2 linked regions of the Homo sapiens genome follow. The protein of the gene in region 2 purifies or fractionates together with the protein of the main gene of each other region. This does not show direct contact. Each region holds a gene or a part of one and is shown on either strand. Other genes may lie near its edges.

The links. The genes of interacting proteins can lie anywhere in the genome.
Region 1: the proteins of LMNB1 (region 2) and DDX21 purify together in Homo sapiens (affinity purification with mass spectrometry; 2 studies listed by BioGRID and IntAct, with this or other methods). This does not show direct contact.

Annotation. Positions count from the first base shown.
Region 1 is NC_000010.11:68,959,170-68,966,169, reverse strand, and holds part of DDX21 (nucleolar RNA helicase 2), read right to left. Parts: intron 6,365-7,000; coding exon 5,921-6,364; intron 4,089-5,920; coding exon 4,013-4,088; intron 2,880-4,012; coding exon 2,701-2,879; intron 794-2,700; coding exon 676-793; intron 1-675.
Region 2 is NC_000005.10:126,807,653-126,815,743, reverse strand, and holds part of LMNB1 (lamin-B1), read right to left. Parts: intron 5,565-8,091; coding exon 5,394-5,564; intron 3,972-5,393; coding exon 3,846-3,971; intron 575-3,845; exon of another isoform or gene 497-574; intron 1-496. UniProt on the Homo sapiens protein: Lamins are intermediate filament proteins that assemble into a filamentous meshwork, and which constitute the major components of the nuclear lamina, a fibrous layer on the nucleoplasmic side of the inner nuclear membrane.

The sequences.
Region 1 (7,000 bases), on a different chromosome or scaffold from region 2:
TGCCTGCCACCACGCCCGGCTAATTTTTTGTATTTTTAGTAGAGACGGGGTTTTACCGTGTTAGCCAGGATGGTCTCGATCTCCTGCCCTTGTGATCTGCCCGCCTCAGCCTCCCAAAGTGCTGGGATTACAGGCGTGAGCCACTGCGCCTGGCCAAAACTATGATTTTTTTAAATTCCTTAAATCCCTTCCTAATTTATACATCTGCTCTAATAATAAAGCTCCAAGGCCTTGAACTGGGAAGTAATGGAATATAAGAGTAGAGACTAACATTTGGCCCTTGAGCCCCAAGGAAAGAAAGCCTGCCTACATCAAGAAAGAAGCAACCATGCAGAAAGAGGGACAGACCCAAGGTCCTGACAGACAAGAGGAACCTTGAATTCTGACTTCCTATTTCCTAGAGCCCAAATGGACTGTCTTTTTGGGTTCAATAATAAATTACTTTTGTAGCCCCTAGATAAATATAAATAGATAAAAGTCCTAAGAACGATATACAGGATTTGCCTATCATCAAGCAGGACCATGTTCTTGACCATGTTTAAACAATGGCAAAAGAAAATCCCCATAAACGACTATCCTATATAGAGAAGCCAGATGTCAAGGTGAAAAGAAATCCAATCAGAGCAGTCAACAATGGGTGGCATTATACCTCCCTCACTTTTTGAATGTACTCACATTGACCTCCATAGGGAGTTCCACCATAAAAACAAGCCACTGACAGCTTTTTTGTGATGTCACTGAAGTCTTTGCTTACTTGATTTGCCAACTCTCTTGTAGGTGCAAGAACCAGTACCTGATAAAGAAAAATAATTGAATTCAAATTACTGTGTAGTATTTGTTTCTTAATCTAGTCCTTAAAGAACAGCATTCCAGGAAAAGAACGACTTGAACAAGGTCTAACGCTGATGATGACGATAACATTATCTAATATTTTTGTCTAATAGATCTGAGACTCTACTAAATTCTTTATATATATTATTCTGATTCAATTCTTGCAACCTTTTGAGCTAGGTATTAGAGGATAAATAACTTGACTAAACCCCAAAGGCTAAGAAGGAGCAGAGCCTTCAAGCAATTGGGATCCAAAACCTATAGTCTTAACCTCTACAGTAGAGAAAATTTGAAGCAGAACAAAATCAGAGAAGTAAGGTAGAGCCAACAATGTAAGGGGCTTTGAATCCTAGAGCAATATGAATTTGATCTATATATATATAAAACATGAAACTGCTGGCCAGGCGCAATGGCTCATGCCTATAATCCTAGCACTTTGGGAGGCCAAGGTGGGTGGTCAGGAGTTCAAGACCAGCCTGGCCAACATGGTGAAAGTCTATCTCTACTAAAAATACAAATGAGCCAGGCGTGGTGGCTCACACTTGTAATCCCAACTACTTGGGATGTTGAGGCGGGAGGATCACTTAAACCTGCGAGGCAGAGGTTAAGATTGCACCACCGCACTCCAACCTGGGCGACAAAGCGAGACTTTGTCTCAAAAAAAAAAAAAAAAAAAAGTCCAGGTGCAGTGGCTCAAGCCTATAATTCCAGCACTTTGGGAGGCTGAGGTGGGTGGATCACTTGACGTCAGGAGTTCCAGACCAGCCTGGCCAACATGGTGAAACCCCATCTCTACTAAAAATACAAAATTAGCCAGGCATGGTGGTACACGCCTGTAATCCCAGCTACTTGGGAGGCTAAGGCAGGAGAATTGCTTGAACTGCTACAGGTCCTCAAAAATAGGGTAATGGTATGAAACTAATATGATTCAAGAACACCTAATACATTCATCTAAAATGTGCTAGGGATATAGCAGTAAACAAATTAACAAAGGGGGAGCATGGACACTGGAAGGCCAGTGAGCAAGTGAGGTTAGGCCAGAAAGACAACTGCAAGAACCCACAGCCAAAGTGACTACATGGGCATTCGCAGTCATTTCAATGAGGTTAATGTTTGTTAAATGTCAAGTTCTCTAGAAATGAACCCAATGGACTCACCCTAATATGGGGGCTTGGCGTTTTCACCTCTGACTTGCCCTTCTTTCCATTCATGCTTTTCTTTTTTTTTTTTTTTTTTTCTTGAGACGGAGTCTTGCTCTATCGCCCAGGCTGGAGTGCAGTGGTGCATCTCGGCTCACTGCAAGCTCCGCCTCCTGGATTCACGCCATTCTCCTGCCTCAGCCTCCCAAGTAGTTGGGACTACACGCGCCCGCCACCACGCCCGGCTAATTTTTTGTATTTTTATTAGAGATGGGCTTTCATGTTGTTAGCCAGGATGGTCTCGATCTCCTGACCTCGTGATCCGCCCACCTCGGGCTCCCAAAGTGCTGGGATTACAGGTGTGAGCCACCGCCCATTCATGCTTTTCTACCAAAAATGCTTTCTCCATCTAGGCAAAAATGGTCAGACACTTGACGAAAGCTATGAGCCCCAGGGACATCTAATGGTTTGAAGGAAATATGATAGCATTAATTATATAGATGATCAAAACTGTGGGAAAGATTAAAATATTGAAATATACAGAGAATGATCTGTATATATTAATTATTAAATATAAAAGAATTGTCCTGGATTACTTTCACATAAAGATCCACAGTAAATAGAATGGGTGACTATAAGAACTCAATAAAAAATAGTAGGGTATGTACACAATGCCCAAGTGGTGGTTTTTCCTATGCTGACTGAGAGCCCTTGTATTTAAGACAGTTACCTGAGGGGCACGGCCTCTCTTCCTGTCTTGCAGTTCCCCATGAAGTTTCTCAATCAAAGGGATGGCAAAGGAGAATGTCTTCCCAGTTCCTGTCCGTGCCTGTGCAATTAAGTCCTTCCCGCTGTAAACATGATGGAATGTCTTTGCTTGTATAGGAAATAGGAAGGTCACTCCTCGGCCTATGAACAAATTAACTGTGTTATCTCACACTGCAATTCTTAAAACATTAGCCATACTGACATACTGAAGTATACTACTCATGCTTCTGGTCCTGCAGAATTAAGGAATTCTACCTTCTGGTCAACATCTACAAAGTTAGGCTCAAATACGTATATTTTTTAAGAGACAAGGTCTTGCTTTGTCGCCCATGCTGGAGTACAGTGGTGTGATCATAACTCACTTGCAGCCTTGAACTCCTGGGCTCAAGTGATCCTCCTGCCTCAGCCTGATGGACAGCTGGGATTACAGGTGCAAGCCATCATACCTGGCTCAGAAATATTCTGATAGTAAAGAATCTGCTTGACTGAAAAATATCAACAAACTTTAAAGCATCCAATTATAGTAAATATTTGAAGTCTCATCCATAAGCCTGAAAATCTGGTGCTTTGCAATCCAACTGTGCTGCTCCTGATTTAGGAAGCACCTACTTGAGTAACTGTGACTCCAGCTACTTCAGAAGCAGATTATTAAATGAATTCTGGGTTTATGCCTATAAATTAGGCTCATTAATCTAGAGATGCCTCAGAAGTGAAAGAGATAAAACATTAATATGGCATCACCTAATTGCTTAATTTCACCAGCACCATTAGTCAATACACTTCTGAATACACACTGTATTAAATACAATTTTTTTTGAGACAGGGTTTCATTCTGTCACCCAGGCTGGCGTGCAGTGGTGTGACCACAGTTCACTGAAGCCTTGAACTCCTGGGCTCAAGCGATCTTCCTTCCTCAGCCTCTGGAGTAGTTAGGACTATAGATGTGTGTTACCACGTGCCCAGCTAATTTTTAAACTTTTTGTCGGGACAGGTTCTCACTATGTTACCCAGGAAGATCTCAAACTCCTGGCCTCAATCAATTACAGGTGTGAGCCACCACAGAGGGCCTGAAAAAGCTTTAACCACTTGTTTAAGAAGCATGAAGAACCATCACTACTATAGTACTAAATTGAATACACAGGCCTACTTCATTATATGACTGCATATATCAGCCTACAATAAGAATACATCCTGGTTCATCTTAACAAAAATAGTGGAGTGCTTCTGTTAAAATAATACGTTCTAACATCATACGATATTTCCAAGAACATTACCTTTGAGAAGTTTAATAGTTTCTTCAGATATGGGAAAATTAGAGAAAGCGCCTTCTTTTTGTTCCACAGGTATTTCCTATCAAGTAAAGGGCCATAGAAAGAAATCAATAATCACCTACACAAATTAATAGAGAACCTTCTGAGAAAGAGACAAAACAAGCTATCCTAAAGCAATTCTTCTAAACACATCACTTTAAAAATCAACCAAAAAGATACAAAAACCTTGATAGGTAACTCGAGATCTGAAAAGGAAACATTGTCATAAATCTATAAAACTTTAACAAAAGAAAAATCTGAGGCAAATATATACTGGGTAACTAGATCTCAACTAAGATCTCAACTAAGATTATGTGTGACTAGATCTCAACTAAGATCTACTCCATAACCATAATCAACAATATACTGATGGAAATGTCATTAGCCCTCTTCCAAAGCAGCATCTCTTGTATACACACATCCATAGAAAATGAACAAACATTTTATGAGGTAGCAGTCACTGTGGCATTATTTGATAGTAAGATATCTGAATGCTCAATACAAGTAGTAAGTAGATTTCAAGACATTTATATGAAGGATTATGTAACCATTAAGCGTACTTAACGAGGAAAATGCTTAGCTAGAAACAAAAAAGATACAAGATTGCACAGTACAATCCTAATCTGATTAAAAATAATAGATGCATATACTAAAAGTACTACAAGGAAACACCAAAAATTAACAAGATGACTTCTGTACTTGAAAAGTACAGGTATTAATATTTACTAAATGAATGGTGAAATTCCAGGAAGCATTTCTTTCTTTTTGCAAAATGTCTGCATTTTCTATTTTCTCTGGATCACATATTTTTTATAATCAGGAAAAAAGTTACAAATGTTGACCATGATCTATAGCAAAAAGAAAATCTATTAGAATTAGTATTTTTCAGCTGGGTGTGGTGGCTTGTGCCTGTAATCCCAGCTACTCGGGAGGCTTAGGCGGGATTATCGCTTGAAGCCACAAGTTCTAGACCAGCCTGGGCCACACAGCGAGATCCCATGTCTAAAACAAATTTTTTTAATACAATTCGTATTTCTTTCATAACTGAGTTTCTGAAAGATAACAGAATTAGGTTCTGGACAGACATTTTATCATCCTGTTCAACTCCAGGATGATTACTTAATGGCCTAACCAAAAGGACTTATGCAATCAACCTTTTCAGTAATTCCAATAATTTATTTGGTTAAACCCCTCAGAGGGAAACTAGGGCCCATTTACAAAACTGTATCTCTTCTGTTGACTGACTTGCAAATAAGCAGACCAAGACTCTCCCTAAGCTTAAGCAGTATCTGCTTATTTGTAAAGGAGGCATTGTGACACTATGCTAATTTTTTTTTTTTTTTTTTTAAAGACAGAGTCCGCTGGGAACAGTAGCTCATGCCTGTAATCCCAACACTTTGGGAGGCCCAGGCGGGCAGATCACCTGGGGTTGGGAGTTCGAGACCAGCCTGGCCAACATGGTGAAAGCCCGCCTCTACTAAAAATACAAAAAATTAGCCAGGCGTGATAGCACACACCCGTAATCCCACCTACTGAGGAGGCTAAGGTAGGAGAATCACTTGAACCCAGGAGGCAGAGGTTGCAGTGAGCTGAGATCGTGCCACTGTACTCCAGCCTAGGTGACAGAGCGAGACTCTGTCTCAAAAAAATAAAAAAATAAAAAAGACAGAGTACTCTTAGCTGAGCCACCATGCCCTGTCGTATGCTAATTTTTAAGATGAAGTCCCAGTCAGCCTAAGGTATCCCCCAACCCACAAGGTGCTGACACATCACATTTTCTCCTACTATTAAAGAGTACATATAGCAGTTACCTACTTATTTATCTGAAACAACAATGAAAGATATCTTCTACCCAATGAAGTGCAAATGTACCTGCTCTATCTCACTGTTACTTTCTTCACTGGCAGCTTCACTGGGGTTACAGTCCGGTTCAGGATGAGGAAATCCATTCTTCAGTTTGGGGCTTTTCTCTCTAGTTTCTCCATTCATTTCCTTTTCTTTCTTCATCTTCTTGGGCTTAGGAGCATCTATTTCTTCCTCAGAAGGCTCCTCATTTTTTGTCACTTTTTTGGTTTTAGAAGAAACCACTTTCTTTTCAATGGGCTCCTTTTTCTTTCTCAAACTTTTGGTTTTAGGAGAAATGTCATTTTGAGATGGCTCCTCTTTCTTTTTTGCCTTTTTGGATTTAGGAGAATTCATGTCAACTTCAGAAGGCTCTGCTTTCTTTTTAACTTGTTTAGCTTTGGGGAAAACAGTTTCTTCCTCTTCTGCTATCTCTTCAGTCTTATCAGATTTTGGCTTCTCTTTTTTCTCTTTCTAAAAAAAATTCATAAGGAAAATACAAACACTGAATAAGGCATTTATACATTTGCAACATTCATCAATTCTGGATTATTTCAAGATCATTTTCAACTTTAAAAAATACAATTTTGGGGCATTTCGACATTTGTACTTTCATGCTGTGATAAGGTAAAAATCAAAATAGTAAGCTTTTTCTAAAATCGCTTCTTAGCTATATATATAGACGGGTATATATCAATAGTTTCACTATCTTGGAAAATGAAGAGTGCCCCTTAGTAACTATTCAACTCATGTGGGTCAAACAGTTGTAAAACAGATTTTCTTTTTTGAGACAGAGTCTCGCTCTGTCGCCCAGGCTGTAGTGAAGTGGCACAATCTCAGCTCACTGAAACCTCCACTCCTGAGTTCAAGTTATTCTCATGCCTCAGCCTCCCGAGTACCTGGGACTACAGGCGCCCACCACCACACCCAGCGAATTTTTGTATTTTTAGTAGAGGTGGGGTTTTCCCATGTTGCCCAGGCTGGTCTCAAACTCCTGAGCTCAGGCAACCCACCCACTCCGGCCTCCCAAACTGCTAGGATTACATGAGCCACCGTGCTTGGCCTATAAACCAGATTTTCATAAGGGATTTGGATAAGCTCATGGGATAC
Region 2 (8,091 bases):
CCTTTCTAATTCTGCCATTGAAACTACCTATGAGGCTATAAGCAAGCTGTAACTAATCTCACTAAACCAGTTTCCACATAAGGAAAATGAAGAGCTCTAACTATCTAGATGATCTCTCAGATCTTGCCACTAACCCTAAATTTTATGACTTCTGATGATCTTGGGGTTTTTAAATATTTTATAGTATGTAATGTAATTGTACTGGTTTATTAAGGTCTAGCTGCAACCAAAGTCTCCAGAATCTGGGTGTTAGAAAAACAAAAGTTAGAGGTGTTTTTAAGTACCATACTGTACTCTTCTCTAAGGCAAGCAGACTCTAACCAACCAATTCATTTGGTCCCAAGTCAAAAATCTAGAGATGCTATAAGCAATGTAAAATTTCTAATTCCAAAACATAACACTGCTACCATCTATATATTATTTAAATATATCTTGTAAAACCAGTATTTTAAAGCCATGTCAATTTTAAGTAAAATTTAAGAAGTACTTCACTAACCTGAGTTATTTAACCAAAAGGAAATTCTTATGGCCTAATAGGCAGCATGATGAAACTGATATGACTCAGCAACAAACACTATTAAGACAAACAATAGGAAAATATTCAAAAAGATAACATTTTTATTTTTGATGATTTTTCTAAGGCTAAAATTTATCAACTAATAAAAATATTCCTCAAAATATACTGTTTACCATAAAGTCTGTTACCAATAATGAACAGAGGAAAGATTCACCCCAGAGAAATTAAAAACTATTTTGGCTAAAGGGATTGCTCGTCTCCTATCTGCTAAGGAGTTAGCTCCTGGAAACCCCCAGTGCACTGCCTAACATTACTTAAAAACCACTAAGATAAGGTTAACAAAAAAAACTTGCAGCCAGGCACAGTGGCTTACACCTGTAATCCCAGCATTTAAGGCAGCAGCTCACGCCTGTAATCCCTTCCATTTTGGGAGGCCAAGGTAGGCAGAGTACCTGAAGTCAGGAGTTTGAAACCAACCTGGCTAACATGGTGCACCCCATTTCTACTAAAAATACAAAGAATTAGCTGGGCGTGGTAGCGCGTGCCTGTAATCCCAGCTACTCAGGAGGCTGAGGCAGGAGAATCACTTGAACCTGGGAAGCAGAAGTTGCAGTGAGCTGAGATAGTGCCATTGCACTCCAGCTTGGGCAACAAAAGCAAAATTCTGTCTCAAAAAAAAAAAAAAACCAACTTGCAAAAATGGGAATTCAATTAACAGGGAAACAGCCTTGAACCTAGGTTAGAACACATAGCTACTAAGTTTCAGAGCCCACTACTACTTATTAATAACAGTCTCCTCATCCAAAGCACAGTGAAGATCAACCTCAAGAGAAGATCTGTACTAAGTAAATCAAATGGATTAGGCAGCAGCCAAAAAAATAATAATACAGTAGGAAAAAATAAAATTGAGGGATAGACAGTAACTAGTAGACAACTTACTATTAGTAAATGGAAAAGAGTAGTAAATGCCAACTCAGTACAAGAACAGAGAGGCCCATTTTTGGAAAAGTACCTGTTAAGACAGTTGATATAGGCCAGGTGCAGTGGCTCACGCCTATAATCCCAACACTTTGGGAGGCTGAGGCGGGCGGATCACCTAAGGTCAGGAGTTCAAGACCGGCCTGACCAACATGGAGAAACCCTGTCTCTACCAAAAATACAAAATTAGCAGGGTGTGGTGGTGCATGCCGGTAATCCCAGCTACTAGGGAAGCTAAGGCAGGGGAATTGCTTAAACCTGGGAGGCGGAGGTTGCAGTGAGCCGAGATTGCGCCATTGCACTACAGCCTGGGCAACAAGAACGAAATTCTGTCTCAGAAGAAAAAAAAACAACAAGAAAAACAAAGACAGTGATACAGTCTGTGTGTTTGTGTTCCCACAAATTTCATGTTTAAATCCTAACCCTCAAGGTGATGATATTAAGAGGTAGGGCCTTTGAGTGGTAATTAGATCATGAGAGGAAAGCCCTAGTGAATGGGATTCATGCCCTTATAATATAGGGCCAAGGGTGCTCATTCACCCTTTAACCATGTGAGGACACAGCAAGAAGGCACCATCTATAAATCGGGGAACAGCCCTCACCAGGCAGATATCCAATCTGCCAGTGCCTTGATCTTGGACTTCCCAGCCTCCAAAACTGTGAGAAATAATTTCTGACATATCTGTTGTTTATAAGCTACCAAGTCAATAGTAGTTTGTTATAGCAGCCCAAAAGGACTAAGACAGATGGTGCAATGGAAAAAAAGATTATCTGTTAAATTTCTAAAAGTAAATCTTCTTTGAAGAAAATGAGTTATAAAAGGAAAAACTGGGAAGGAGTAGAGAAACCCATTTATCAGTCTGCAGCCTCTGGGCAACGGGCAAATCATTAAACTCACCTAGATCTGTGGTTACATGGAATGAACTCAGAGGTGCTTCCAGCTCTGCTATTAAATGAAAATCTTCAAAACACTATCAGCACAAAATAGGTTTAAAATAATTTAAAAATTTGTGCCGTAAGTAACAAAGCACATGATAGACAGTGTAAAAGCCCCTGTGTTAACTAAATTATTTTATATCACCCCATTTTATGGGACTCATTTTCTGCTTTATTTCTAAGTTCCTGCAACAGAGGTCATCAGTTTTATAATTAGAAAAATATTTTACTAAAAATGGTAAAAAGAAAAAGGAAGGAAGAAAAGCCCAATCAAGAGTAAAATAGGCTGGGCACGGTGGCTCACGCCTGTAATCCCAGCACTCTGGGAAGCCGAGGCGGGTGGATCATGAGGTCAGGAGATCGAGACCATCCTGGCTAACACGGTGAAACCCCGTCTCTACTAAAAATACAAAAATTAGCCGGGCGTGGTGGCACGCACTTGTAGTCCCAGCTACTTGGGAGGCTGAGGCAGGAGAATGGCGTGAACCCGGGAGGCGGAGCTCACAGTGAGCCGAGATCGTACCACTGCACTCCAGCCTGGGCGACAGAGTGAGACTCCATCTCAAAAAGAAAAAAAAAAAAAAAAAAAAAAAAGTAAAATAAAGTTTATTCTCATGTGGAAAATTCAAAACAAGATTTCCTCCCTTGAGGAAAATAGAAGCGGAAGTTATTTCCAAAATAATTAAGGTGACGAGTTAATTGCTGAATCATTCTGAATGCAGTATATGGAGTATATGTACTTTGTGTCCACACTGACATCACCCTAGGCTAAAACTGATCTGAAGTAGTGTCCATGCCTGCTTAAGCAGCACCTGAAGCACACCATCACACCCTGATAGGCAGCCAGTCAACACAGCCGGCAATAATGCCATTTGTCACTTAGGCGTACCAACGAATGAATGAGTCACTAAATTCTTATCGGAATATGCAAATTAAAGCTACTTTCCTGGATCCTAATTGTTATATACTTTAAGCACTAAAGAATTTGTCTAGAAACACAAAGCATTCACCACCCACAAAGAATTTTTGCATGTTTTTCTTCATTTTGGTTTTCAAATGATATAAAAAAGGAAGGTGTTGAGAATAACTCTGTAGAGATGAAGCTGTTAGACAGGTCGGAAGATCCGGGTCCTAGGGTAAGTACAGTGAATAAACTAGCAGGCTCCTTCCTCAAGGGCAAGTCCCTTAGCTCTGTGTAATCTACTAATTAGGAACAATAGTATCTGCTCACAGGATGTTTATGCAATGCAAAATGAACGAATCTAGAAAAGTACTGTGAAGACGAAAGCACAGGATGACACCATCCTCTGTAACAAACAGAGGGAGGAGTGACATCAGCCCAAGCAAAGCAGGTAGGTGCCCGTGGTGAAGGTAGCCTTCAAGTCTAACTTCTTACAGAAAGATGATTATTTACCTCTTTCTGTAGATTAGAAAGCTGGGATGAAAGGCTCTCAATTCTCATGCGGCTTTCCATCAGTTCTTCCCTGGCACTGTTGACAGTAGAAGTATTCATCTCTGATGACAGTCTGGCATTCTCAAGCTAAAAGAAGAAGCAAAGCATAGTCAGTCTTATCTAGAACTGAAACAAAAAAGGAAGCATGATTCACCTCAAGGCATTTCAAACCTAAGTCCTGCTGGTAACTGGTAGATGAAACACAGGAAAAGCATCATGAAGTTTGCTGATATGGTGTGAATGATGGTAATTCTGTGTGACTTTTAGAGTCACTTCCTAAATAATGAGCTTTAAGAATGCTAATATACCTAGGCCTTTACCCAAAGCTTATTACTTCAATATTTCATCTATTAAACCTTTAATGTCTAAGATAACACTGATAATAAGAAGACTGGGCAATAGCAACTTGACTGTGGTGGTGTCTGTAAGAAAAGAAACATCACATATCCCTAACCCACCAAATCCAATACAGAATGTAAACCAACAAGCAGAAAATACTAGTTTATAGATTCGTTCAAACCAGATAGAAACACTTCCTTTCAGAAGCAAAAAAAACTCCTTGAGTAAAATACAAATCCCATAACACTATTGTGTATGTGTGTCTCAGGGACATGCTCCTGTGTCTCCTCCCTGGCTCCCTGTGAGGCCACAGTCTGTGACGGATCCTTACTTTAGCTCCTTCACTGTATAGCTCAATGTGTGATATTAGATAAATGTTATACAACTGAAGTTACTGCTTATAATAAGATCTTTCACTTTCACTAACTGCTACTTCATACAATAGATAAAAAGCAACATGAACAGTTTAAAGCCATGCAATGAAAATTTTCAATAACTCTGTGACTCTAATATTCTAAGTCAACCACAAAAAAGTCTTTTTAATCAAATCATGTAACATTTAAAACACAAGGCAAAATCATTTACCAGGGAAAGCCTGTACTAGTTGGTGATTTTTATGAATTCTTGTAAGGTCAGCTAATATAAGTGGGAAGTTTCTACAATATTTTTTTAAGTGAATAATAGTGACAGAAGAAGAAATAGCAGAGACTTTCCATTTGGCCCTTATGCAAAAAAGCCGGAAGTGTGGTAGTCACAATCTATGCACAATGATGACATGAAAGTGAGATCTAATGCAGTCTGACATTCATTCATTACTAAATGGATGTTTATGTAGGACAGCATGATCAGTACTTGTTATTGGAAGAAAGTTATTTCACATGGTTTGGGTTCAACTACTATGGCATAGTACGAATGATCAATGGGACAAAAAGACAAAACCTAACCTCTAATAAAATTGCAACAACCCTACATTCTTCTAGTAATTTTTAATAACATTTAGTTTATAGAAAACTGCACTTTTTTGAAAAAATCAATTTTCTATATATTTCATGGAGACTAGGGGAATCATTTTTAAAAACTAGAACAAAATAAACATAAAGCCATGTTCATCATGGGAATTGTGAAGTAATGATTTTAAGTGTTCAAAAGAATCTTCTGAAGAGAGCTCACTTTGGCATGGTAAGTCTGCTCCAGCTCCTCCTTATACAGCCTCACTTGGGCATCATGTTGCTCTCTCATCTCATGAAGGGCTTGCGCCAGCTTGTACTCATACTCAATTTGACGCCCAGAATCCACCTCTACCAAGCGCGTTTCATGCTTCCTTCTGGTCTCGTTAATCTCCTGGGGAAAAAACAAAAAGCATAAAGCCAAGCTACTTACCATGGCTGCATTGGTACACATCTGAGTGACATCACAGCCATCTGAAGTTTTACACACGAACTTCCTCCTGTTTGTCCTCAGGCGGTCATGTGAATAAACACTTTTTTGCCTCTTAGTTTTCAGTTGAGGTTTTTGAAATGGAACTAATGACAGAAGTGGTAGCATCTCAAGCCTTAGGAACTTTCTATTCCTTTTCAGGAGCATAGCTATTTATTTTTCTGAAGCCAAGGAAAGGCCTGGATGGCCTACTAAAACTATCTGCAATCAAGGATTTATACACAGTATACTATACTAAACACTAAGCAAAAATTATTTTTCTGAATTGTTTCATTGATAATCTTAAGAACATCTCTGAAAAAACAGCACATGGAAAGTTAAACTTAACAGTTGTGATAAATTCATGTAAAGATTTATGTGAAATGAAACTATTTTCTTTTCTTTTCTTTTCTTTTCTGAGATAGAGTATCACTCTGTCGCCCAGGCTGTTGTGCAATGGTATGATCTCAGCTCACTACAACCTCCGCCTCCCGGGTTCAAGCAATTCTCCTGCATCAGCCTCCCTAGTAACTGGGATTACAGGCACATACCACCATGCCCAGCTAATTTTTGTATTTTTAGTAGAGATGAGATTTCCCCATGTTGGCCAGACTGGTCTCAAACTCCTGACCTCAGGTGATCCATCTGCCTCAGCCACTCAAGTTGCTGGGATTACAGGTGTGAACCACCTTGCCCAGCCATAAAACCATTTTCTTAGACATAATAATAGGCAGCACAAGCTAATTTACATGACTTCTTTAAAAGCCGGTATTAAGCTATCATTATCAAGTGACACAGGATCTTATTAACAATATTAGTTGACTAACTCAAATATTTATGAAAAATTTACCATTGAAGAATAGAAGTAGTTGTCATGATCCTTTCCTTTACTCTGTTTTAAGGAAGTGTCTAAATAAAATTAGAATGGAAGGCTGGGCGCGGTGGCTCACGCCTGTAATCCTAGCACTTTGGGAGGCCAAGGCAATCAGATCACCTGAGGTGAGGAGTTCAAGACCAGCCTGGCCAATATGGTAAAACCCTGTCTCTACTAAAATACAAAAATTAGTCAGCCATGATGGAGGGTGCCTGTAATCCCAGCTACTCAGGAGGCTGAGATGGGAGAATCACTTGAACCTGGGAGACGGTGGTTGCAGTGAGCCAAGATCGCACCACTGCATTCCAGCCTGGGCAGCTGAGCTGGACTCCGTCTCAAAAAAAAAAAAATAATAATTAGAATGGTAATATCTGAAGAAGCCACAAGAGGGAAGTATAACCCACCAAAGTTGCTGTTTGTGTATATTAGCGCATGTATTTTCCTTTGCATTTCTTCATCTTTCTCTTAACTACTACACAGGAGCATGCACTTGACAAAATCTGAAAAATCAGAAAAATCAGGAGGATTCTGCTATCACCTTCCCAGAGATCACATCTATTTCATGAAGCAAATAATACCTAAATCACAAAAATACTGAAGAGTGACTGCTAATGGTTTGTTCTTTGTCTACCTCCTCCTTCCTCTTTCGTCTTTCTCCTTCCTTTTTTCCCCCAACTGTTCATAATAAGGAAGTTAGATATTATTACTGAATATATATCATGAATGTAAAAAAAAAAAGTTAAGGCCAGCGTAGTGGCTCACACCTGTAATCCCAGCACTTTGGGAGGCTGAGGCGAGTGGCTCACCTGAGGCCAGGAGTTTTAGACCAGCCTGGCCAACATGGTATTACTTAGTAAAAAGTAAGGAAAAAAAAAAAAAGTTAGCCAGTTGTGAGGGTGTGAACCTGTAATCCCAGCTACTCGTGAGGCTGAGGCACAAGAATCATTTGAATCCAGGAGGCACAGGTTGCAGTGAGCCAAGACCGTACCACTGCACACCAGCCTGGGCAACAGAGTGAGACTCTGTCTCACACAAAAAAATTTTTTTTAAAGTAAAAAAGGCCAGGTGCGGTGGCTCACAACTATAATCCCAGCACTTTGGGAGGCCGAGGCAGATGGAGCACTTGAGTTCAGGAGTTCGAGACCAGCCTGGCCAATGTGGTGAAACCCTGTCTCTACTAAAAATACAAAACTTAGCCGGGCATGGTGGCACATGCCTGTAGACCCAGTTACTCCAGAGGCTGAAGCAGAAGAATCGCTTGAACCCAGGAGGTGGAGGTTGCAGTGAGCCAAGATCGTACTACTGCACTCCAGCCTGGGCGAGAGAGCAGGACTCTGTCTCCAAAAAGAGTTAAAAAAAACAAAAACAAAAACAAAACTGAAGAGGACTATCTTAACATCCATTCTCAAAAAGGCAAAGGCCAAAAATTCAAAGATGCTATGCACTCTAAAAATATTAAATTACTTTTTACTGATGCTATTTTTTATATAGAACCAGTGACCTTACAAAGAAAAAAAACCCTACTCCTGGTTGTCTACACACAACATCAGAAATAAGTAATGATAAATCACAATTTTT